Linked DNA regions of Homo sapiens. The protein of the gene in region 1 interacts with the protein of each later gene in a pairwise test. Each region holds a gene or a part of one and is shown on either strand. Other genes may lie near its edges.

The links.
Region 2: the proteins of DLST (region 1) and PIAS4 interact in binary tests that used the Homo sapiens proteins (3 or more experiments, as listed by UniProt).
Region 3: the proteins of DLST (region 1) and DRC7 interact in binary tests that used the Homo sapiens proteins (3 or more experiments, as listed by UniProt).
Region 4: the proteins of DLST (region 1) and RBM17 interact in binary tests that used the Homo sapiens proteins (3 or more experiments, as listed by UniProt).
Region 5: the proteins of DLST (region 1) and MAVS interact in binary tests that used the Homo sapiens proteins (3 or more experiments, as listed by UniProt).
Region 6: the proteins of DLST (region 1) and TPX2 interact in binary tests that used the Homo sapiens proteins (3 or more experiments, as listed by UniProt).
Region 7: the proteins of DLST (region 1) and RASSF2 interact in binary tests that used the Homo sapiens proteins (3 or more experiments, as listed by UniProt).

What each region holds. Positions count from the first base shown.
Region 1 is NC_000014.9:74,891,916-74,895,415, reverse strand, and holds part of DLST (dihydrolipoyllysine-residue succinyltransferase component of 2-oxoglutarate dehydrogenase complex, mitochondrial isoform 1 precursor), read right to left. Parts: exon of another isoform or gene 3,358-3,500; intron 2,583-3,357; coding exon 2,430-2,582; intron 2,069-2,429; coding exon 1,992-2,068; intron 1,105-1,991; coding exon 1,007-1,104; intron 1-1,006. UniProt on the Homo sapiens protein: Dihydrolipoamide succinyltransferase (E2) component of the 2-oxoglutarate dehydrogenase complex. The 2-oxoglutarate dehydrogenase complex catalyzes the overall conversion of 2-oxoglutarate to succinyl-CoA and CO(2).
Region 2 is NC_000019.10:4,024,736-4,028,235, forward strand, and holds part of PIAS4 (E3 SUMO-protein ligase PIAS4), read left to right. Parts: intron 1-3,410; coding exon 3,411-3,452; exon of another isoform or gene 3,453-3,454; coding exon of another isoform or gene 3,455-3,462; intron 3,463-3,500.
Region 3 is NC_000016.10:57,708,306-57,711,805, forward strand, and holds part of DRC7 (dynein regulatory complex subunit 7), read left to right. Parts: intron 1-3,500. UniProt on the Homo sapiens protein: Component of the nexin-dynein regulatory complex (N-DRC) a key regulator of ciliary/flagellar motility which maintains the alignment and integrity of the distal axoneme and regulates microtubule sliding in motile axonemes.
Region 4 is NC_000010.11:6,095,534-6,099,033, forward strand, and holds part of RBM17 (splicing factor 45), read left to right. Parts: intron 1-1,514; 5' UTR 1,515-1,532; coding exon 1,533-1,655; intron 1,656-3,500. UniProt on the Homo sapiens protein: Splice factor that binds to the single-stranded 3'AG at the exon/intron border and promotes its utilization in the second catalytic step. Involved in the regulation of alternative splicing and the utilization of cryptic splice sites.
Region 5 is NC_000020.11:3,849,834-3,853,333, reverse strand, and holds part of MAVS (mitochondrial antiviral-signaling protein), read right to left. Parts: intron 1-3,500.
Region 6 is NC_000020.11:31,798,290-31,802,300, forward strand, and holds the end of TPX2 (targeting protein for Xklp2), read left to right. Parts: intron 1-75; coding exon 76-263; intron 264-2,680; coding exon 2,681-2,791; 3' UTR 2,792-3,511; downstream 3,512-4,011. UniProt on the Homo sapiens protein: Spindle assembly factor required for normal assembly of mitotic spindles. Required for normal assembly of microtubules during apoptosis. Required for chromatin and/or kinetochore dependent microtubule nucleation.
Region 7 is NC_000020.11:4,817,109-4,820,608, reverse strand, and holds part of RASSF2 (ras association domain-containing protein 2), read left to right. Parts: intron 1-3,500. UniProt on the Homo sapiens protein: Potential tumor suppressor. Acts as a KRAS-specific effector protein. May promote apoptosis and cell cycle arrest. Stabilizes STK3/MST2 by protecting it from proteasomal degradation.

The DNA.
Region 1 (3,500 bases):
GTTTGTCAAATTTCTCTTCCTGACAGTGCTGATACTTGAACACATTGAAATCTTGAAGAAAACAGGTAAGTCAACAATTAGCTCACTACAGAAATGGGCATACCTAGTGAATTAGTACCTTTGGTTAACATTCTAAGGTTATTTAAAAACACAACTTGTTTTCCATTTCACTGTCAGAGCTGGGTAAAATGAAAGACAAGCCCAGCCTATCTTTGCCTTTTCATCCACTCGATTCTGAATCACTTAGGAAAATATGTAAGTGACGGGGTCAAACAATCCTCCCATCTCAGCCCCCCAAGTAGCTGGGGCTACAGATGTGCACCACCACACCTGGCTAATTTTTGTATTTTTTGTAGAGGTGGGGTTTCGCCTTGTTACCCAGCTGGTCTTGAACTCCTGGACTCAAGCAATCCGCCTGCCTCGGCCTCCCAAAGTGCCAGGATTACAGGTGTGAGCCACTACACCTAGCCAAGGCTAAGGTTAAGGTCATGGAGGAGGCAGGCATAGTATTAGGAAAGCCAATTAGAGAAGAAGCCAGCGGCTCACTCTGTGAAAGTTAACAATAAACAGGCCAGGCGCGGTGGCTCACGCCTGTAATCCCAGCACTTTGGGAGGCCGAGAAGGGCAGATCACGAGGTCAGGAGATCGAGACCATCCTGGCTAACACGGTGAAACCCCGTCTCCACTAAAAAAATACAAAAAATTAGCCAGGCGTGGTGGGGGGCGCCTGTATTCCCAGCTACTCTGGAGGCTGAGGCAGGAGAATGGCGTGAACCCGGGAGGCGGAGCTTGCAGTGAGCCGAGATCATGCCACTGCACTCCAGCCTGGGAGACAGCGAGACTCCATCTCAAAAAACAAAAACAAAAACAAACAAACAAAAAACAATAAACAAATACCTCTTCCCTGACAAGTTAGTTTTAGAATCAGCACTAGATAAGGAGTGGGGCAAGTTCGTGTTCTCTAAGAAAAAGGGGCCTAGGGGATAAGAGGGACTAGAGACACTACCTCATGTCAATCTCATTAAAAGTTGTCAGCATTGCACATGTATTCTGGGCCTCCTTCAGACGCTGAGCAATGCGCTGCCGCATCCTGTTCATTTTCTCCTGAAAGTAAGAGTGGAACAAGCATTGACAATCTGATCTCTCTGGGTCAAGCATTCCCCGTGTAGTCAGAAAGAACACGGCTTGCCACGAGTAGATGGCCAAGGACTACAGTATCTAAGTACACGAGCTCCAGGCTTCCCTTTCCTGTGGTGGCCCTTTCTCCTCCAAGCAAAAACATGCAAACACAGGCCAAAACTACTCACTCAGATGTGCCTAAAGCTTGACCAAGAATGAAGGCTCAGAAACAGTGATTTAAAAACCAAAACCCATTTATAAAAGAATGTAGTGTAGTGTAGTCTAGCCAACATAAGAATCATAAGAAAAAGGGCACTTTCTGTTGATAAAGATTTGCATAAGAATAGCTATTTGTGGAACAGAACCTCATGAGCAACAAACTTTCGAGGCTATCATATTTTTAGGAAGTATTCTCAGGCAGAGGAACCACAATCCTGACCATACTTCCTTGAGGCTTTATGTCTGCACCTGACAGCTATTGCTACTGAGTATTATCCCTTAGCTACAGCTAAGTATCCCAGAAGTATAGGAATAGAGCTCACTAAACCACCTCTCTGAAGCGTGTGACATCGTGGGAGGACGGGGGTGAGTTACTAAGCTACCACCCCTACAAATATTTAACTTACCCAAGGCTTTCACTGGTAGCATAATATAGTAGGAAAACCACTGAACAAGTGTTCAGAAGACCTCAGGTTCTAGTCCTATCATTTGATGGTTATGTGACTATGAAGAAGTTATATCCTAAACTCCCTTTATCAAGGTTGAGGGAATGAGCTGCCAGGCATTCAAAGGTAGGCATCACCACACCCATACTCCACTAATCTCAACACTGCCCCCTGCCTCTTTCCTGAAAGTGGTCCTCAGAGGCTTACCCGATGTTCTGAACGCAGACCTTTGCCAGCTCCTGGCTCAGCTAGTGGTGGGGCAACAGTGGGTTTTACTGCAGACACTGAAAATGAAAAGAGGATAAAGCTGCATCAGACAAGGAAAGAAACATCTGCTGAGTTTGTGCCAGTGCTTTCATATGTACTGTTACTTAATCTTCAAGATATTCTGAGGTATATTAGTATCACTCCAACTTCACAGATGAACAATCTGTTCAGATAAATTAAGTGACTAGCCTAAAGACACACAGCTAGTAACAGAAAGCTGAGATGCAAAGCAGGCCTTTGGATACAAAGTCTAGAATTCTTTCTACAAAGCAGCCAACCTGGCCTGTTCAGAACCATCATCAGTCTAGAGTTTACCCTTTGAAGGAACATATTAGACGAGATGTTCTCCCACATGACATGTGGGAGTTGGAAGCCTACCAGGTTTGCCAGAAGGAGGCTGTGAGGGCGAGGGCACCGGTGGCATCTGAGTGGGTATGGGTGCTGCAGGGGGAGGAACTGCCGCTGCTGTAGGTTCTGCTTTTGGGGCTGCAGCAGCAGGAGCTTCAGCCGGCTTGGCCTTAGCAGGAGCAGCTGAAAAACAAGAAAAGTATATGCCACTGGCACTGTCTGAAATGAGAAGCAACCAAGCAAAATTTAGTGGCAAAAACTCTAGCTCCAATCAAGTAACGAATGTCTACTGGGTATCAGCAATATGCAAAGCACTATGAGACACACACACAATGACATAAGGCACTATTCTCTAGTCCTCAGGGTCCCTAAATGTCCATCAGATAACTGGCTCAACTTAGCTCCCTTCCCAATTTCACAGGTTTCCACTGAATAAATTCAGCAAGTACTTTCAAAGCACCTATCAAGCCCAAGAAAATGTAAACTTCCAAGGAAAAAAAAAAACACCTAGGCAATTTAAAATATTGAAATGCATACATAAACATATTTCTAATTACTGATACTCTTCATCCTCTATTTTAACATTATATATGCAAGAATACTATTAAAAAATAGGCTGGGTGCAGTTGCTCACGCCTGTAATCCCAGGATTACAGGCCAAGGGATTACTCCCCTTGGGAGGCCAAGGCAGGCGGATCACAAGGTCAACAGATCAAAACCATCCTGGCCAACATGGTGAAAGCCCGTCCCTACCAAAAATACAAAAATTAGCTGGGCGTGGTGGCATGTGCCCATAGTCCCAGCTACTCGGCAGGCTGAGGCAGGAGAATCACTTGAACTCCGGAGGCGGAGGTTGTAGTGAATCAAGATCAGGCCACTGCACTCCAGCCTGGCGACAGAGTGAAACTCCATCTCAAAAAATAAAATAGTCATCGAGGGTTGACTTAGGCTTAAGAAAGCACTTCATCCAGGATGACTCATAAATCACTGAAGTGGCCAAGTAATAATCTCACAACTTTAAATGAAATGTTTGTTTCTGTTTTTCACCCATCTGGACATTATATCCAGGGTTAGTGCTAAGACAAACTTCTGCAACAGGAG
Region 2 (3,500 bases), on another chromosome or scaffold:
CAGGAAGTTAAGTCAGGTGTTTTTTTGTTTTTTTTTTTTGAGACTGAGTGTAGCTCTTGTTATCCAGGCTTCCAGGCTGGAGTGCAGTGGCGCGATTTTGGCTTCCTGCAACCTCCACCTGCTGGATTCAAGCAATTCTCCTGCCTCAGCCTCCCAAGTAGCTGGGATTACAGGCGCTCACTACCACGCCCGGCTAATCTTGTATTTTTAGTAGAGATAGGGTTTTGCCATGTTGATCAGGCTGGTCTCGAATTCCTGACTCAGGTGATTCACCCACCTCAGCCTCCCAGAATGCTGGGATTACAGGCGTGAGCCACTGCGCCTGGCGGAAGTCAGGTTTTTTCCCAGTTATATAATGAATACGGGGTTTCCCCCTCCATACCGTGGATAGTGAGGTGGGATGGTTCCCTCGGTGGGGCCGTCCTGGGCACTGCAGGCTGCTGAGCAGCATCCCTGGCCTCCACCTGCTCTGTGCCAGGAACACCCCTAACTCTGACAACCACAGATGTCCCCAGACACAGCTCGGTGTCGCCTGGGGCAGGGTCGTCCTCAGATGAGGACGGTTGAACTGTGGCAGGTGAGGGGCCAGTGTGGCTGCCCTGCGCTCTGCTCCTCCCTCAGTCTCTCCGAGGCTGTACTGCCTCCAGCTGAGACAGATTCCTGCTGGGCAGGCTAATGGTAGGTGCTGGGCCCTTAGGACAGGGGAGGCCATTTGCCCAGGTCACCCCTGAGTCCATGGCAGGGCTGGGCCGGGCGCCCCCATTTAATGCCTAGCTTCTCGTGCCCAGCCGCTTCAGACCCACCGCCCCCACCTGCTGTGGGGCCAGGTTCCTGGGGCCTCCCAGCCTGGCCCTCACACCTAGTAAGGGTTCAGATCCAGCCGAGCCAGGCTTGGCCATGGAGGCCTCTCTGCCTGGGTGACCCAAGGTGGCGACCTCGTCTTTCTCAGCCTCGTCTTCCTTGTCTATGTACCTGGGTCAGCACAGCCTCCACCTGCACTGGGTCCCTGCTGCAGAGTGCTCAGAGCCAGCCACACAGTATAAAAAAATCAGTTTGGGCTGGGCACGGTGGCTCACAACTGTAATCGCAGCCCTTTGGGAGGCCAAGGCAGGTGGATCACGAGGTCAGAAGATCGAGACCATCTTGGCTAACACAGTGAAACCCCGTCTCTACCAAACATACAAAAAAATTAGCCGGGTGTGGTGACGGGCGCCTGTAGTCCCAGCTACTCGGGAGGCTGAGGCAGGAGAATGGCGTGAACCCGGGAGGCGGAGCTTGCAGTGAGCCGAGATCCTGCCACTGCACTCCAGCCTGGGCAACAAAGGGAGACTCCGTCTCAAAAAAAAAAAAAAAAAAAAGTTTGGTTTTCTCCTCAGAAAGCTTCTGGACATTTCTTTTTCTTTTTCTTTTTTTTTTTTGAAATGAAGTCGCTCTGTCGCCAGGCTGGAGTGCAGTGGCGTGATGTCGGCTCACTGCAACTTCTGCCTCCCAGGTTCAAGCGATTCTCCTGACTCAGCCTCCCGAGTAGCTGGGACTACAGGTGCGCACCACCACGCCTGGCTAATTTTTGTATTTTTAGTAGAGACAGGGTTTCACCATGTTGGCCAAGATGATCTCAATCTCTTGACCTCGTGATCCACCCCACATCTGCCTCCCAAAGTGCTGGGATTACAGGCGTGAGCCACCCTGCCCATCCCACATTTCTTTTTCTTATGTCGAGATATGATTTGCATACCATAGAATATACAGTTTTTAAGGGTGTCATCGAGTGGGTTCTCGTGGATCAGTAGGTATCGCAGCTCCCACCACTGCCTAGTCTCAGGGCAGTCATGTCCATCCCCAGCAGCTGCCACCCTTCATCCACTGGCCCCCACGCATCCCCTCCTGTCTGTAAATGGGTCTGTCCTGGACATTTCATAGAAGTGGAATCACATACTATGTGGCTTTCGTTTATTATTATTATTTAAGACAGAATCTCACTCTGTCGCCCAGGCTGGAGTGCAGTGTCGCGATCTCAGTTCACTGCAATCTCCGCCTCCCAGGTTCAAGTGATTCTCTTGCCCCAGACTTCTGACTAGCTAGGATTACAGGCGTGCACCACCACACTCAGCTAATATTTGTATTTTTTTTGAGACAGAGTCACACTCCGAGGCCCAGGCTGGAGTGCAGTGGCACGATCTTGGCTCACTGCAAGCTCTGCCTCCTGGGTTCACGCCATTCTCCTGCCTCAGCCTCCCAAGTAGCTGGGACTACAGGCACCCGCCACCACGCCTGGCTGATTTTTTTTTTTGTATTTTTAGTAGAGACGGGGTTTCACCATGATAGCCAGGAGGGTCTCGATCTCCTGACCTTGTTATCCGCCCGCCTCGGCCTCCCAAAGTGCTGGGATTACAGGCGTGAGCCACTGCACCTGGCCTAATTTTTGTATTTTTAGTAGAGACGAGGTTTCACCATATTGCCCAGGCTTGTCTCGAACTCCTGACCTCAAGTGACCCACCCACCTCCGCCTCCCAAAGTGCCAGGGTTACTGGCGTGAGCCACCTGCCTTGTGTGTCCTTTCGTGTCTGGCGTCTCTCACTGGGTGGGACATCCTCACGGTGCACCTGTGCTGAGGCCTGGGTCTGAGCCTGGCTCCTTTCCATGGCTGGGTCGCGTCCCGTGCGTGTTGGTCCTTCGGTCTACGGAAGGACACTCAGGATGCTGCTAGTTTGTGGCTGTTGTGGTCAGTTCTGCTGTGAACATCCACGGATGCGTCTTTGGGTAGATAGACTTTTTCCTCTTCTTCTGGGGGCGTTTCTTGTTAAAGTTTATCCTCAGGTGTTACTGGTTTTTGTTTTTTTTTTTTTGGAGAGTGTTTCTCTTTGTTACCCAGGCTGGAGTGCAGTGGTGCAATCATAGCTTGCAGCCTGTGCCTCCATGGGTTCAGACGATCCCCCTGCCTCAGCCTCCAAGCAGCTGGGACCACAGGTGTGCACCACCACGCCTGGGTAATTTTTTGTGGAGACAGTTTCACCATGTTGCGCAGGCTCGTCTCAAATTCCTGGGCTCAAGAGCTCCGCCAGCCTTGACCTCCCAAACTGGGTGTTTTCTTGCCATTGTGAGCCAGCTGCTAGATTCCCGCATGCACGTTTTAGCTATGTTTCTTCGCAGGGAGAGGCACCTGGCTGCCCTCTCTGGTTCAGGGTTTTGCTGTGGATTCTGTTGCATTTTCCAGGGAGGCCAGCCCCTCTCCTGACCTCACAGCCACTCCTCTCACCCAGCCCGTACAAAAGAGTCCTGGGCCTCAGTTTCCCAGCTCTGGGGGAGGGAGCCTTGTGGTGTGGCGGTCTCCACCTTGTCGGGTGGGCTGGGGTCACGCCCTCCTCACTCAGCTCTCCTTTCCTTTCCTCTGGTTTGCTCCACACCCACAGGGAACTGCAGCCCGGAGTTAAAGCCGTGCAGGTCGTCCTGAGGTATGCCCAGGTGTGCCCGCGACCCCAGGGCTGGACCCCCAGCCACCC
Region 3 (3,500 bases), on another chromosome or scaffold:
CTAACGACATCCATTAGTTTCATCTGTTTTTGGAGTTTACATCAGTTGAATCACACAGTGATTCAATACTCTTACTCTTGGATTCCTTCACTCATTATGTTTATGAAATTCATTGTGGTTTTTTGTGTGGTTTGTTCATTTTCATTTTTTATTACTTTCCATTATTTGAATACACCAGAACTTATTTGTCCTTTCTACAGTTGCACATTGAGACTGTGTCCAGTTTGGGACTATTTTGAATAATGCCGCCATGAATATTTGTATACATATATTTCAGTGAACACATACACACATTTCTGTTGGGTAACTACTGAGGGGTGGAATCGCTGAGTCACAGGGTGGGCACATACTCAGTTTTAGTAGATACTGCCCGATTTCTCAAGTGATTGCATCCATTTACACTCCCACCAGCAATGTATGAGGGTTCTCAGAGCTCCATCCACATCCTTGCCAATACTGGATACTTTCTTTTCCATTTTAGCTATTGTAGTGGACATGTAATGGTATTGCACTGTGGTTTTATTTAATGCAATTGATTTTTGGCTGAGTGTGGGGGCTCACACCTGTAATCCCAGCACTTTGGGAGGCTGAGGAGGGTGGATCATTTGAAGTCAGGAATTCAAGACCAGCCTGGCCAACATGGTGAAACCCCGTCTCTACTAAAAATACAAAAAATAGCCAAGTGTGGTGGTGGGCACCTGTAATCCCAGCTACTTGGGAGGCTGAGGCAGAAGAATTGCTTGAATCTGGGAGGCGGAGGTTGTAGTGAGCCTATATTGCGTCACTGCACTCCAGCCTGGGCGACAAAGCAAGACTCTGTCTCAAAAAAAAAAAAAAAAAGCAATTGCTTTTTGCAAACTGTTCACATATCCAGTAAGTTTTAAACCTGCTTATTCATTTTAAAAATTAATCTGTAAAGACTTTGGGGTTTTCTGCATATACAATCAGTTCTATAGCTGAATGATGGCCGTTTTGTTTCTTCATTTTTAATCCTTATACTTTTTCATTTCTTTTTCTTGTTTTATTTCTCTGGTTAGTACATCCAGTATAATGTCAAATTGAAGTGGGGATTCTGAACATCCTTGTCTCAGTCCTGATTCACAAGTAACGCCTTAGTATCATAACATTTCACTATTTGTGTGATGTTTATCTTGACTGTAGGGTTTTTATAGCTAGCTACCCTTTATTTAACTAAGGGATTTCTTTCTCAGTTCACTAGCAGGTTTTTTTTTAATCAAACAAAATTTGTTTATATCAAATGTTTTTTTCATCTATTAAATGATCATAATTTTTTCTTCTATTAAGTGGTAAATTAGACTGATTGTGTTCCCCCCTTTTTAAAATTGAGGTGTAATTGACATAACATAAATCCACTAAAGTGCACAAGTTAGTGGCTTTTAGTATATTTACAAGATTGTGCAACTATCACCACTATCTAATTCCAGAATTTTTTCATCACCCCAAAAGAAGATTTTTATTTTTGAGACAGGGTCTTCCTTTGTTGACCAGGCTGGAGTGCAGTGATGCAATCACGGCTCACTGCAACCTCTGGACTCAAGCAATTCTTCCACCTCAGCCTCCCGAGTAGCTGGGACTACAGACTGCAGGCATGTGCCACTATGCCCAGCTAATTTTTGTATTTTTTATAGAGACAAAAAATGGGTTTTGCAATGTTGCCCAGGTTGGTCTCAAGCAAGCCACCCACCTTGGCCTCCAAAAGTGCTGGGATTACAGGCTTGAACCACTGTCCCGGGCCCCAAAAAGAAGATTGTGGTTGAGATTATACTGGATCCATAGATCAATTGAGAGAGAACCGTTTTCTTAACAATATTGAATTTTTCACCCATGAACCATGGTATCTCTCTTCAGTTATTTAAGTCTTTTAAAATTTCTATCAGCAACATTTTGTAGGTTTCAGTGTACAGTTCTTGCACATCTTTTGTCAGATTTATTCCTAAATATTTCGCTTTTTGATGCTATGATTTTTTTAAATTTCACCTTCTGACTATTCTTTGTTAGTGAATAGAAATGCAGTTGATTTTTACATATTGATCTTCTATCCTGAAATCTTCCCAAATTCACTTATTTGCCCTAATAGCCTTTGCGTGGATTCCATCAATGTTTATACAGATAATTATGTTATCTGTGAATAAAAACAGTTTTACTTCTTTTCCCATCTGGATGCTTTTCTTCCCTTATCACACTGGCTGGAATCATCAGTAAATGTTAAACAGAAGTGATGAAAGCAAACCTGTTTATTCCTGATCTTACGGAGAGCATTTAGTCTGATACCATTAAGTATAGTATTAGCCACAGGTTTCTCTTATTGGTTCCCATTATCAAATAAAGGAAGTTTTTCTCCAGTCCTAGTTTGCTGAGAGTTTTTTCAGAAATAGATGCTAGATTTTTGTCAAATACTTTTTCTGAGTCTATTGAGATTATTATGATTTTTCTTTTTTAGTTTATCTACATGGTAAGTTACTTGGATTGATTTTGAATGTTAGACTAACCATGGTTTTCCTGGGATAAACCTCATTTCATTGTGATGGTTAAATCTTTTATATATTATTGGTGTTGAACTGAAAATTTTGCTTAGAATTTCTGTATCTTTGTTGAAGAGAGATATTGTTCTGTAGTTTTCTTAGAATATATTTGCCAGGTTTTGGTATCACAGTAATGCTGGCCTCATGGAATGAGTTGGGAAGTTTCCCTTTTCTTCAGTTTTCTGGATGAGTTTCTGTAGAATTGGCATGATTTCCTTTGTACGTTTGCTGGACTTCACAAGTGAAGCCATCTGGGGCTGGAATTTTCTTTGTGGAAGGATTTTAAGGTACAAATTCAATAGGAAGACTCAAGCTGTTTTTGAGTGAGGTTTGGTGTTTGTATCTTTCAAGAAATTTGTCCATTTCATTTGTTTTCAAATTTATTGTTATGAAAGTGTTCAAAATAGCTCCTTATTTTCCTTCTAATATGTTAAAGTCTTTAGTGACATTACCCCATTCATTCTTAATATTGGTAGTTTGTGTGTTCTCTCTTTTGCTCCTGATCAATCTGGTTAGAGGTTTATCAATTTTGTTGCTCTTGATGCAGGGGCAGGCCCCAAAATCAGGGCTTTGCCAGTGAGGATTCGTGGCTTTTTCCAGGAAAGAATTCAAGGGCAAGCTGGTGGTGTTAGAGGCAACTTTACTTGAAGTGGCAGCGTACGGCAGCAGCAGATGGACTGCTCCTTGTGGAGCAGGGCTACCCCATAGGCAGTGTGCCCAGATTGTAACCACCCAAGGGGTTCACCTTGCCAGCTGCCTAGACAGAGCTGATTCAAGACTGGGGAATTGCAATAGAGAAAGAGTAATTCACGCAGAGCAGGCTGTGTAGGAGACCAGAGTTTTGTTATTACTCAAATCAGTCTCCCAGAGCATTCGTGCATTCAGGGAGCAGAGTTTTTAGGGACAACTTGGTGGGTTGGGGGATGCCAGGGAACCAGGAGTGCTGATTGGTCAGAG
Region 4 (3,500 bases), on another chromosome or scaffold:
TTCATTTGAGCAGTCGGCCATCAATACCCCTGGACAGTCTGCTTTCCCTGCTTCTCTACGGCCTTGCGGGGACCTTTCATTTAAAAATCAAAATGGAGAGGTTTTAGTTAATTTGAGGGTTCACGTATGAAGGAATGGAAGAAACTAAAAAGTGGTGACAGTTTTCTGGGGTGCTGACTTCAGGCAGGGAGTTACTGTACTTAAGACCAGGGCAGTTCTTCTGAGGGAACAGAAGTTGGTGTGCACTCCGTCCCCCACTCCACACAGTGTGGTACCAACATCAGCGAAGGTGTTGGGGCGGCAGGGTCTTAGAATCCCTGTAATGGGGGAGCTGAGAAGTAAGAGTACCTTCAAGAGAAATGCTTGCCGAATCAGACCTAAGGAGGGTATGTGTTAAATATTTTCCTCCTCTCCTGAGCCACAGAACACAAGCAAATTAGGCTTTTCAATAACACGGTTTCCATGGGAAAATGCTTTATGGGCCCCCTGGGAACTGACAGACTTATTTGTCCATAAACTGGGAACTACTGTGCTAAGCATTTACTTGCAATTTGTGGGTTTCTGTTTAAATTAAGTTCTCTTTCTGTCTGTGAGATTGATTTCTTATTTGAAGAAGTAAGCTATGTTGGTGGGTTTCAGAATGTTGATTTTTTTTTTAAAAAGTGGCAGTTGGGGTTCACTGGCGAGGGCTCTGGAGTTGGCCTGGCTGGGTTGGAAGGGGCTTCCGCTGTGGCCTTGGGCAGATTGATTCCCTAAACCCCAGCATCCATGTCTGTGCAGTGCTGGGCTTTCATGGGACCTGCTGCCGATGCTGCATTGCATGTCATGCTTTGCGCCTGCTGACTCGGTTTTTGTTTCCACGTGTTCCTCTGTTCTGCACGGAAGCTGTGTGTTGCTCGTTCACATGCAGATTGTTGATTGTCTCTTTGTAATCACTATCATTAAAGATGACAGATTTCCACTTGGTGTGATATGAGGAAATCAGAGTATTTAAGATGTAACCAGTCTACTCCCCCCTTGATAATTGTAATTGACAAAATCACATCTAAGAGATCATTTCTGTCATTTTTTTCCCTAGGAGTACGTTTAAATTTTTTCTTTATAAAAGGGTAGCTAATTGTGCTACATCAACCTGCTAATTGGTGTTTTTGTAAAGCTTCTACTTTTTGGCACTGACATAAATAGAATTTTTTAAAAATTGGATATATGTAATTAATAATGTTCCAATTCTTACCTCATTATGTGCCCTAGCATTGAAGGATTTCACTCATGGATCACTTGACTGCATGATCTTATAGATGGAAAAATGAATTTTAGAGGCTTATTTTAAAAATAATCCATGGTCTAGCTTCATGTATCAGGAATAGCCCTACATTAATGGTACCAGGAGCCTGGGCCTCTGTTGCTGAAAGGTCCTGGACCTTTTACCTCTAAAATTTCATGATACTTATTTTAACATGAAAAGCCTTTATTGAATTGTGCATTCTTTAATCCCCACCCCTTTTGCCTTTCAGCATTAAACTGAAGAAAAGATGTCCCTGTACGATGACCTAGGAGTGGAGACCAGTGACTCAAAAACAGAAGGCTGGTCCAAAAACTTCAAACTTCTGCAGTCTCAGCTTCAGGTGAAGAAGGCAGCTCTCACTCAGGCAAAGGTAAAGACAAGCCCAGAGCATGAGAGCAGAGGCCTCCAGAGTGGGTTCCTCATTAGGATGACAAGGAATTTGGTTTCAGCTTGCTCTTCTGCCTTTGTATTGGGTAAATGGTGTTAAGCATTTGTAGGGGGAGAGGAATGAGGAGTTTAAGGCCACTTTGCTACTCCTGGCTCCTGGGAATAGGAACATTTCGTGGGGTAGGAATGAAGAAAAACAGTACTCTGCGGGGGCTGGGCGCAGTGGCTCACGCCTGTAATCCCAGCATTTTGGGAGGCCAAGGCAGGCAGATCACGAGGTCAGGAGATCCAGACCATCCTGGCTAACAAGGTGAAACACCGCGGGCGCAGTGGTGGGCACCTGTACTGCCAGCTACTCGGGAGGCTGAGGCAGGAGAATGGCGTGAACCCGGGAGGCAGAGCTTGCAGTGAGCCGAGATCGCGCCACTGCGCTCCAGCCTGAGCGACAGAGCAAGACTCCGATTCAAAAACAAACAAACAAACAAACAAAAAAACAGTACTCTGAACCAGCAGTGACACTGCTTTTCAAACTTAAGTAGTGGAGGTCTAAGATTGAGTGAGAACTTGTTTAAGGTGCTAATTTTGTAGCCTTACTCCTGATATTCTGGTAAACTGTAGTTCAGGCTGGAGCCCCAGGAGTGGGAATTTTTAAGTAGCATTCCTACTGGTTTGGTGGAGGTAGTTTGGAAGCAGCACTTTGGGAAGAAGCTCCACAGAATACCTAAGCTGCTGCGTGCAACTTATTGAGGGCTCAGGTTGATTGTGAAGGCGTCAGGCATAGGTAGTCTGGATGCTGATTGCTTTTGTTTCTGTTGTGTACATGTTGGGTATTGGCAATGTCCTTGAAATAACATGTAAAACATTAAAAACCTAGTTGTCGACTGGATATTTGCCATTAAAATGTAGGCATGAGAATGGTATTATGGTTTGTTTACTACTTTAGAGATCTTTATGTTCTAGAGTATGCATTCGTAATGGAGGCTATATCCCCCCAAACAGAGCGAATATTGGTCTTTTTGGGGGTGAAAAAACCTTGCTCGTGTTGTGCACAGTGTATCTGTGGTGTGAAAATTTCATGTGCGGGAGAAAATTTAGTCAAAGGCTCCTTGCTGGGGAGGCAGTAATTAAAGTTGAGAAAAAGTACTTTAGAGATGTGTACTGAAATATTTACCGATAAGATGATGTCATTTTTGGGATTTACTTCTAAACAATTCAGTCCCGGGCAGGGGAGGGAGGGAAGAACAGAACTACCCATGAGTTGATAATTGTTGAAACTGGATGTGGATAGTAGAGACTTAAGAATTAATATTAATCTCTAATTTCATGTTTGAAAATTTCCGTAATACACAGGTTTTTTGTTTTTTTTTTTTTTTTTTTTTTTTTTTTTTGAGACGTAGTCTCACTTTGTAGCCCAGGCTGGAGCGCAGTGGCATGATCTCAGCTCACTGCAAGCTCCGCCTCCCAGGTTCACGCCATTCTCCTGTCTCAGCCTCCTGAGTAACTGGGACTACAGGCGCCCACCACTGCGCCTGCGGTGTTTCACCTTGTAAGCCAGGATGGTCTCGATTTCCTGACCTCGTGATCCGCCTGCCTTGGTCTCCCAAAGTGCTGGGATTACAGGCGTGAGCCACCGTGTCCGGCCAATACACAGGTTTTTTTTCTTAAAAGTTCTACTCATTTTTCTTTTCCCTTTACCACATCAATAGATACTTACATGGAAGTGCTTACATTTGATTGTTCAGTATTGTAGAGAGGTTTTTTTGTGTTTTTAAAATTCATCATTACCAAATTTAGATTTTTTGGATGCCAGTATTTTGTGTTTTTTTTA
Region 5 (3,500 bases), on another chromosome or scaffold:
TTTTGTATTTTAGTAGAGACGGGGTTTCACGGGGTTAGCCAGGATGGTCTCGATTTACTGACCTCGTGATGCGCCCGCCTCGGCCTCCCAAAGTGCTGGGATTACAGGCGTGAGCCACCGCGCCCGGCCGCCATCTTTAATTTCTGTAAACATCCTATTTTATTACTGCCTGAGTCTCTCCAAAATTCCTGCAGAACCCGGGCGCGGTGGCTCACGCCTGTAACCCCAGCACGTTGGGAGGCCGAGGCGGATGGATCACGAGGTCAGGAGTTCAATACCAACTTGGCCAAGATGGTGAAACCCCGTCTCTACTGAAAATACAAAAAAATTAGCCAAGCATGGTGGCGGGCGCCTGCAGTCCCAGCTATTCAGGAAGCTGAGACAGAGAATTGCTTGAACCCAAGAGGCGGAGGTTGTAGTGAGCCGAGATCACGCCACTGCACTCCAGCCTGGGCGGCAGAGTGAGACTCCGTCTCAAAAAAAAAAAAAAAAAAAAAAATTCTGCAGAATTTGCTAAAAATGAATTGATGACCACCAGCTACTCAAGAAGCTAGGGCAGGAGGATCGCTTGAGCCCAGCTGTTCGAGGCCAGCCTGGGCAACACAGCGAGACCCTGTCTCTAAAAAAATAAAAATAAAAATAATTGAAGACCAAAAAGAATCAGATCCAGAATACCTAGGGCCCATTTCTTCTCTGCAGGTTGGTCAGCACTGGGAAGGTCTGCATGTACCCCTAGCACATGCGGTGGGGGGATCTGTATGTGACCCTAGTTTCTGTGCCTATAAATGTCCTGGCTCCCTTCCTGGCTCTAAGGCCCTCAAGCTGATAGCAAGAGGGCTATACCTAAACGTGCTGCTGCTTTGGGACACACTGAAAAAATAAAAAGTGAACCCCAACATGATAATAATCGGATCATCCCGCTTTAAAGAAGAAACTGAGGTATGCTTGCTAGTTAGTAGAAGAAGAAAGAACTGAGATCTTCAGGTCAGCTTCTTTCCATGACATGGCTGCAGGCCCACCATTAAAGCCTGCTACACATAGGCCGGGCACGGTGGCTCACGCCTGTAATCCCAGCACTTTGGGAGGCCGAGGCGGGTGGATCACGAGGTCAGGAGATCAAGACCATCCTGGCTAACACGGTGAAACCCCGTCTCTACTAAAAATACAAAAAATTAGCCCGGCGTACTGGCGGGTGCCTGTAGTCCCAGCTACTCGGGAGGCTGAGGCAGGAGAATGGCGTGAACCTGGGAGGCGGAGCTTGCAGTGAGCCAAGATTGCGCCACTGCACTCCAGCCTGGGCGACAGAGCCAGATTCCGTCTCGGGGGAAAAAAAAAAAAAAAAAGCCTGCTACACATACATTCTTTTTTTCTTTTTTGAGACAGAGTTCCAGACTCTTGTTGCCCAGGCTGGAGTACAATGGCACAATCTCGGCTCATCGCAACCTCTGCCTTCCGGGTTCAAGTGATTCTTCTGCCTCAGCCTCCTGAGTAGCTGGAATTACAGACATGCACCACCACACCTGGTTAATTTTGTATTTTTAGTAGAGACAGGGTTTCTCCATGTTGGTCAGGCTGGTCTTGAACTCCTGACCTCAGATGATCTGCCTGCCTTGGCCTCCCAAAGCGCTGGGATTACAGGCGTGAGCCACCATGCCCGGCCCACATACATTCTTAAGATAGGAGACTGAGTTCCATGCCTTGAACTCACTGTGTGTCCTGGGCAAGTTATCAGTTTCCAGACTTCCTCACCCTTAAAACGGCTCAGATAGCAGCTTGTTTTGACAGTACGGTAATTCAGCCTTATAAACTTTTTTTTTTTTTTTTTTTTTTGAGACAGAGTCTCCCTGTCGCCCAGGCTGGAGTGCAGTGGTGTGATCTCGGCTCACTGCAGCCTCCATCTCCCACATTCAAGCAATTCTCCTGCCTCAGCCTCCCGAGTAGCTGGGATTACACGTGCCCACCATCATGCCTGGCTAATTTGTTTGTTTGTTGTTGTTGTTGTTTTTGAGAAAGAGTCTCGCTCTGTTGCCCAGGCTGGAGTGCAGTGGCGTAATCTCGGTTCACTGCAACCTCTGCTTCTCGGGTTTAAGCAATTCTCCTACCTCAGCCTCCCGAGTAGCTGGGATTACGGGTACACGCCACCATGCCTGGATAATTTTTATATTTTTAGTAGAGACGGGGTTTTATATGTTTTAATGTTGGCCAGGCCGGTCCTGAACTCCTGACCCCAGGTGATCTGCCTGCCTTGGTCTCCCAAGTTGCTAGGATTACAGGCGCCAGCCAACGCGCCTGGCCAATTTTTGTATTTTTTAGTAGAGACAGGGTTTCACCATGTTGGCCAGGCTGGTCTCGAACTCTTGACCTCAAGTGATCCTCTTGCCTTGGCCTGCACAGTGCTGAGCCACTGTGGCCGGCCTCTAAGCTTAAATTTTTTTTTTTTTTTTTTTTGAGACGGAGTTTCGCTCTGTCACCAAAGCTGGAGTGCTGTGGTGCAATCTCGGCTCACTGCAAGCTCCACCTCCTGGGTTCACACCATTCTCCTGCCTCAGCCTCCCGAGTAGCTGGGACCACAGGCGCCCGCCACCACACCCGGCTAATTTTTTGTATTTTTAGTAGAGATAGGGTTTCACCGTGTTAGCCAGGATGGTCTCAATCTCCTGAACTCGTGATCCGCCTGCCTCGGCCTCCCAAAGTGCTGGGATTACAGGCGTGAGCCACTGCGCCTGGCCTTTTTTTTTTTTTTTGAAATGGAGTTCACTCTTTTTGCCCAGGCTGGAGTACAATGGCGCGATCTCGGCTCACTGCAACCTCTGCCTCCTGGGTTCAAGCGATTCTCCTGCCTCAGCCTCCCAAGTAGCTGGGATTACAGGCATGAGCCACCACGCCCCGCTAATTTTGTATTTTTAGTAGAGACAGGGTTTCACCATGTTCCGGTCTCGAACTCCCGACCTCAGGTGATCCGCTCACCTCGGCCTCCCAAAGTGCTGAGATTTACAGGCGTGAGCCACCGCGCCCAGCAGCTTAAAAAAATTTCTTTTTTTTTTTTTTTTTTTTTTTTTGAGACAGTCTCGCTCCTTCACCCAGGCTGGAGTGCAGTGGTGCAATCTCGGCTCACTGCAAGCTCCGCCTCCCGGGTTCACACCATTCTCCTGCCTCAGCCTCCCAAGTAGCTGGGACTACAGGCGCCTGCTACCACGCTCGGCTAATTTTTTGTATTTTTAGTAGAGACAGGTTTCACCGTGTTAGCCAGGATGGTCTCGATCTCCTGACCTCGTGATCTGCCCGCCTCGGCCTCCCAAAGTGCTGGGATTACAGGCATGAGCCACCGCGCCCAGCCAGCTTAAAAATTTTTAAGTGCCTCAAATATAAGCAATTGCTGCCAGTTGTTTATGTAGGAGTTACCACAATTTGCAGTTATAGATGTATTTGCTCGTTACTTTTCTGCCGCCCCCATCAGGGAGTGCTGCAGGGAATAAAAGAGACAAGGTCTATGCCACATC
Region 6 (4,011 bases), on another chromosome or scaffold:
CTTGCTCATTCCAGGGGGCGTAGGTTTATGCAAGTCCTGCTTGTGCACCAATATTTTTTCTGTTTCTGTACTTAGAGGGCCTTTCTGGTTCTCTAGTTCAGGAACCTTTTCAGCTGGCTACTGAGAAGAGAGCCAAAGAGCGGCAGGAGCTGGAGAAGAGAATGGCTGAGGTAGAAGCCCAGAAAGCCCAGCAGTTGGAGGAGGCCAGACTACAGGAGGAAGAGCAGAAAAAAGAGGAGCTGGCCAGGCTACGGAGAGAACTGGTAACTGGGAGCATGAGCACTGACGAACACAAACATGCCTCTGTTTTATTTTACCTGTACCTTACCTTGTACCAGACAGGATCTAAGGTAGCCCGCAAGGCTGTACCAAAGACAATGAGTGAAAGGGGGAATTGCACAAACTGAGGGTGGTGATGAAGTTGAGTTGTGAATGAAGCTAACGATGTGTACATTGTGATCTAAGTAGGAGCTGTAATTTTGGCCCTTTTTAGGAACCAACCTGTCAGTTACAAAACTCGCAGTGTTCATGAGACATAAGACAGTTGTTCAAAAAATACATTTATCCCTTTGATAGTGAATTTTTAGACAGAATTTCTTCCGGAAGTTTTCATAAGGAGGACAACATGTGGTATAACCATGATGCCTTTCCTAGGACTGTTTTTTATTTATTTGTTTATTTTATTTATGTAACTTATTATTTCCTCTGGGGTTAAGAAGCACCACTGAGTTTTGTAATTAGACAAGAATACATAGCGAAGGACATGGGAATTAAATGGCAACTGTATTTTTGTTTTAATACTGAGCCCAAACTCCTTGGAGTTACAGTGTTCGTCGCTCCAGGTAATCCTCTACTAACATAATTATTTAGATGTTGGTTATCCAAAAAGAAACCTGAACTCCACATTAAGGACCAATCTGCTAGGAGGGCAGCAAGTTGTGTTAACTGTGTTAATGAAGAAGCAGACAGTTTTAGATGGAACTTCGTATGATAAATAAAAAAAGAAAGGGTCATGGGGAGATGTTGGTAAAAGGTTACTTAGTTACAGTTAGATGGGAGGAGTAAATTTCAAGAGATCTATCATATAACAAGGTGACTGTAGTTAATGATATATTGTATTCTTGAAAACTGTAAAGAAAGTGGATGTTATGTGCTCACACTACAATAAGTGGATGTTATGTGCTCACACTACAATGTTAATTAGCATCTTGCTAATTAACAAATGCATTATCTCACATAGTAACCATTCCATAATGTATGTCTACTTTAAAACATCAGCGGTACACAATAAAAATATACAGTGTTATCTGTCAATTAAAAAGAAAGAAGGCCAGGAATGGTGGCTCACACCTGTAATCCCAGCACTATGGGAGGCCCAGGTGGGTGGATCACTTGAGGTCAGGAGTTGGAGACCAGCCTGGCCAAAATGGCGAAACTCTGTCTCTACTAAAAATACAAAAATTAGCCGGGCATGGTGGCACGCACCTGTAATCCCAGCTACTCGGGAGGCTGAGGCAGGAGAATTGCTTGAACCTGGGAGGCCCAGGTTGCAGTGAGCCGATTGTGCCACTGCAGTCCAGCCTGGGGGTGACAGAGCGAGACTGTCTCAAAAAAAAAAAAAAAAAAAAAAAAGAAGTGTAAGTTGTTGAGGTTTTGTCTAAAAGTGCTATACTACAGCTGGATGTGGCAGCTCACACCTGTAATCCTCACACTTTGGGAGGCCAAGGTGGGAGGATTGCGTGAGCCCAGGAGTTCAAGAAAAGCGTGGGCAACATAGCAAAGTCCCATCTCTATTTTAAATAAATAAATAAAATGCTAGACTAGCAGTTGAAACAGCTATTGGCAGCTATTGGCATAGGTGATTATGCCCATAGGAAGGTTCCACGGACACACTATTTAGGAGACCAGCCTCTTGGTAAAATCTAGACTACCATTTGCTGAGTGAATGAGAAAATAGTATAATCCCCACTCTATATACACTCATACAATCAGCCTTTTTTCCCGGCCTCAACTTTGATTTTTCTTTAGCATTTGGTACCTGCCTCTTGTGTTTGTCCCCATTATAGAACTGCTTCTTGCAGCAATTCTCAACATAACTGATGGCAACATTGTAAAGCACAATTCAGTCAATGCTGGTTAACTCTCTACTAATCTGGCTTGATTTAGGATTGATTTTAGACTACCCTAAAGGATGGATGGGACCATGCCTTCTTTAGCCACCCTTCCTGGTATGGTTGTTGTGTTTTGTTTTTGCTTTTTCCCCAGGATTCAGGCTTTTGGTGAATATTTATAGTCAGTAAACTTAAGACTGTACTCTGGGAAATTCTTAGCTTGTAACTTCTCTGCTATACTTGAGTACAGCCCTATTATACCCTAGTAAATCACACAGGACATAGGTTTGGCATTCTTTAGTGAAAGCTGAGGGACTTGAGGAGACTGTGGCCTAAAGGAAAGCTGGGGGACCCAATAGAGACCTGAATAGAAACCCTTTTGGGCTCCAAAGCACATACACTTTTCCATCATACCGTGTTGCCCCCCAGGCCCCACTCCCCACACCTGAAACTAGTGACTGGGACCTGTAAAACTCTACAAACATTTTCTCAAAAAGAAAAAAATAAAAGCAATTATAAGCGTAGTTCTCTGACATCCCTCTCACTGGTAACTTTTCCTTACTTTGCAGGTGCATAAGGCAAATCCAATACGCAAGTACCAGGGTCTGGAGATAAAGTCAAGTGACCAGCCTCTGACTGTGCCTGTATCTCCCAAATTCTCCACTCGATTCCACTGCTAAACTCAGCTGTGAGCTGCGGATACCGCCCGGCAATGGGACCTGCTCTTAACCTCAAACCTAGGACCGTCTTGCTTTGTCATTGGGCATGGAGAGAACCCATTTCTCCAGACTTTTACCTACCCGTGCCTGAGAAAGCATACTTGACAACTGTGGACTCCAGTTTTGTTGAGAATTGTTTTCTTACATTACTAAGGCTAATAATGAGATGTAACTCATGAATGTCTCGATTAGACTCCATGTAGTTACTTCCTTTAAACCATCAGCCGGCCTTTTATATGGGTCTTCACTCTGACTAGAATTTAGTCTCTGTGTCAGCACAGTGTAATCTCTATTGCTATTGCCCCTTACGACTCTCACCCTCTCCCCACTTTTTTTAAAAATTTTAACCAGAAAATAAAGATAGTTAAATCCTAAGATAGAGATTAAGTCATGGTTTAAATGAGGAACAATCAGTAAATCAGATTCTGTCCTCTTCTCTGCATACCGTGAATTTATAGTTAAGGATCCCTTTGCTGTGAGGGTAGAAAACCTCACCAACTGCACCAGTGAGGAAGAAGACTGCGTGGATTCATGGGGAGCCTCACAGCAGCCACGCAGCAGGCTCTGGGTGGGGCTGCCGTTAAGGCACGTTCTTTCCTTACTGGTGCTGATAACAACAGGGAACCGTGCAGTGTGCATTTTAAGACCTGGCCTGGAATAAATACGTTTTGTCTTTCCCTCCCTGATTGTGTTATTTGATGTTTTTAAATCTGTTAAGCCCCTTTGGAGGTCACATCTTATTGGGAAATGGGTAGTTTGAGAGGTGGGTCCAGGAACTTTTTTTTTTTGAGATGGAGTCTCGCTCTGTCGCCCAGGCTGGAGTGCAGTGGTGCGATCTCTTCTCACTGTAAGCTCTGCCTCCTGGGTTCACGCCATTCTCCTGCCTCAGCCTCCCGAGTAGCTGGGATTACAGGCGCCCGCCATCATTCCCGGCTAATTATTTTTTTTGTATTTTAAGTAGAGACAGGGTTTCACCGTGTTAGCCAGGATGGTCTCGATCTCCTGACCTTGTGATCCACCCGCCTCGGCCTCCCAAAGTGCTGGGATTACAGGCGTGAGCCACCATGCCCGGCCCAGGACAGTACTTTGTAATTTTTTTCTGTCTTATGTCAGAATATCTCCATATTCTGTTAACTCTCTCTCAGTAACCACTTAATCATGTATGTTATGCCTTCACACAG
Region 7 (3,500 bases), on another chromosome or scaffold:
GTTGTTTACTGTAATGACACACTGTCCTATTTAAACACTTCCCTGTCTCCAAGAAGAAGTTTTATTTTTTATTTATATTTATTATTATTATTATTTTTTGACATAGGGTCTCTCTCTGTCGCCCAGGCTGGAGTGCAGTGGTGCAATCATGGCTCATGCAGCCTCAACCTCCTGGGCCCAAGCGATCCTCCCACCTCAGCCTCTTGAGGAGCTGAGACCCCAGGCATATGCCACCACACCCAGCTAAATTTTTATTTTTATTTTTTTATAGAGATGAAGTCTCGCTATGTTATCCAGGCTGGTCTCAAACACCTGGCCTCAAGCCATCCTCCTGCCTCAGCCTCCCAAAGTGCTAGGATTATAGGTATGAGCCACTGTGCCTGGCCCAGAAGAATGTATAAATGTCCTCAAGGTGGAGTGAGCTCCCACAGGTCTCACGGCTGGTTTCATTTATTTGGCCTGCTTGTTGGTTACTGTGGACCACATGGCCGTGTGAGGCGGGGGTTGGTGAATGGGGCAGGAGGCACCAGGGAAGGAGGGTGGCACATCCTCTGACTTGGGCTATGCAGCCAGTGGGTCATTTTTTATCACTTCTGGGATGGCAGACTCTAAAGTCTGTCATCACAGGTTGATGCTGCTGTTTGCGGTGACAGCTTGGGGCTGGGGAACTGCTGCTGCTCAAGGCAGCTGTGGCAGAACCAGAGAGGGACCCTCTCATCCATTCCTGTGGAACGGGCAAAATGACTTCCAAGGCCCTTTCCTGTTCCTTCAATTGGTGAAAATTGGCAGAGAAATACCTGTGCTTTCTTTGAACATGTCGACCCAAAGTGATTTGGCAAAGTAGATTTCCTTCATCAGCACGGTGCTTTAACCGTAGTTGGCATTCAGTGAAGTGTGATTAACTGCTCATTTTTATAAATGTCATGAAAGAGTATTGGATTTGGAGTTTGAATTGCATCTTACCATTTCCTAGCTGTGGGATACTGAATAATGTAATAGATGCTGTCAGTCTCCTGCCCATGTTCCACTGGTCTCAACCAATGACTGATGGGAGAAGGTGTGCAAATACTCCAGCTTCCTCGCCTCTCTTTTGAGATAAGTTTGGGGCATGTTCTGTGCTGTCTCTAAGAATTCCCTTGCAGGACCGAATCTCAATTGCTCATAGTGTTAGCTTGCTCACTTCCTCATCTCAAGTACATTTCAAGTACAAAGGGAGTGTACTTTGTACTTTGTACACTCCCTTTGTACTTGAACTTGAATTCTTGTTTCACGATCTACTTTTGGGTGAAACCAACCTAAGACAGGCTTTAACTTATAGTTAAAAGTCATTAAAAGTCTCAGTTTCAGGCTGGGCGCAGTGGCTCATGCCTGTAATCCCAGCACTTTGGGAGGCCGAGGTGGGTGGATCACCTGAGGTCAGGAGTTCAAGACCAGCCTGACCAACATGGTGAAACCCCGTCTCTACTGAAAATACGAAAATTATCCGGGCATGGTGGCGGGCGCCTGTAATCCCACCTACTCAGGAGCCTGAGGCAGGAGAATCGCTTGAACCTGGAAGGCGGAGGTTGCAGTGAGCTGAGATCTCGCCATTGTGCTCCAGCCTTGGCAACAAGAACAAAACTTCCTCTCAAAAAAAAGAAAGAAAAAAGAAAAGAAAAGACTCAGTTTCCACAACTGTAAGATGGGAATTATAATAAGTATCTCACAGCAATATTGTGAGGGTCAAATGGGCTATCATGTGCTTAGCCTGGCACATAGCAAGCATGTAGAAAACCATTTGCTGGCTAGAAGCAGGCTATGATGGATTTCAGAGTGTGTATTATGGTGGAACATAGAGAGTTACAGTGCTTTGGAGAGAGGCTGCTCTTAGGTTAGGTGAGGAAACTGAGGTCACCTGCACATGGTTTGTATTCCTAGGTTGTGACCAGCGACGTGCTGGTGAATATTTAACACCCGGCTCTTGGTAGGGGCTTTGGGGGAAGCCCTGCTTTGTGGTGTTTTCCAGTTTATATGATATAAATAAATATTCCCACTATGGCTGACTTCACTCTACCAACCTGGTATCAGTGAACACTCAGTTGGGAAGAGTTGTGCGCCATTGGCACTTGGGAGCCAGTAGGATCTGGCCCCAGCACACATCGGGCCATGACTAAGTCAGCATGTGACCCCAGTGATTTTAATTTCCAATTCTGTACATGCGGAGGGGAGGATAAGATTTGTATTAGGCATCCAAGTCATGGGATATGTTCAAGCGCTGCCCCAAACCGGTTGAACCTCACCTGCATGCGAGACACTTCTGGGGTGCATTTAGTGATTATGATTATTATTGTGTTTTTTTTTTTGAGTTGGAGTCTCACTCTGTTGCCTAGGCTGGAATGCAGTGGCACGATCTTGGCTCACTACAACCTCTACCTCCCAAGTTCAAGCGATTCTCCTGCCTCAGCCTCCCAAGTAGCTGGGACTACAGGTGCATGCCACCATGCCCAGCTAATTTTTGTATTTTTAGTAGATATGGGGTTTCACCATGTTGGCCAGGCTGGTCTTGAACTCCTGACCTCAAGTGATCCACCTGTCTCAGCCTCCCAAAATGCTGGGATTACAGGCATGAGCCACTGCGTCTGGCTAATGATTATTGAAATGTTTATGCTGTGAGACTCTGGTTCTCAGTTTCCCCATCTCCAAGGCAAGGGATTAAATGATTCCATATGTCCCTTCTAACCCTTGATCTCTTTCAGAAGAGTCATTGCCTTGTCCTTCTGTCTATACAAGAACAAAACCTTTAATGACAAAAAACCTTTCCTGTGGACTACATGTGTGCCACCCACCATGAGACACCCAGCACTGGCCCCTCCTAGAGTCCTTCCTCCTGGGAATTCAGTGGACATTAACCCAGTATAATCCTGCCTGTCTTGTATATCAGTGTCACCTCAGGACTCCGGCATGGTGTGTCTCCAGAGGAGGCCTGGAGAGGTGGGGAGGGAGGGACTGGTTTTTTTTGGAACGGATGGTCCCTTCCTTTCTGAATCACTATGCAAAGTTATAGACACCCAAGTAGAGTCTGCTCATGGTTTGCATTCCTAGGTTGTGACCAGTGACGTCCTGGTAAATGTTTAACACCTGGCTGTTTTTGGAAGGAGGTTTGGAGAAAAGTCTGTGTGGAGAAAGAGAACTTTCTATGACAGAATTCATCATCTTGGTGTAATTTTACTCTTAATGCTCTGTTGACAACCCTCCCAAACAAGTCCCTGACTCAGCAGTTCCACCCCTAGGAATTCTGCCCCTAGGGATGTAATTGGATAAATGCAGAAAAGTATGTGTATGGGGATGTCCCTCGCAGCATTATTTATAATAATGATAACACTCCATAGTGACAAATGGAGACCAACAGTCATACATTAGTTAACCATGGCATGTCTATACTTTGGAATACCAAGTGGCTACAAAAACATAGGCTGCAGGTGTGTAGCTATTAACGTGGAAGAATATGATATATATGTATT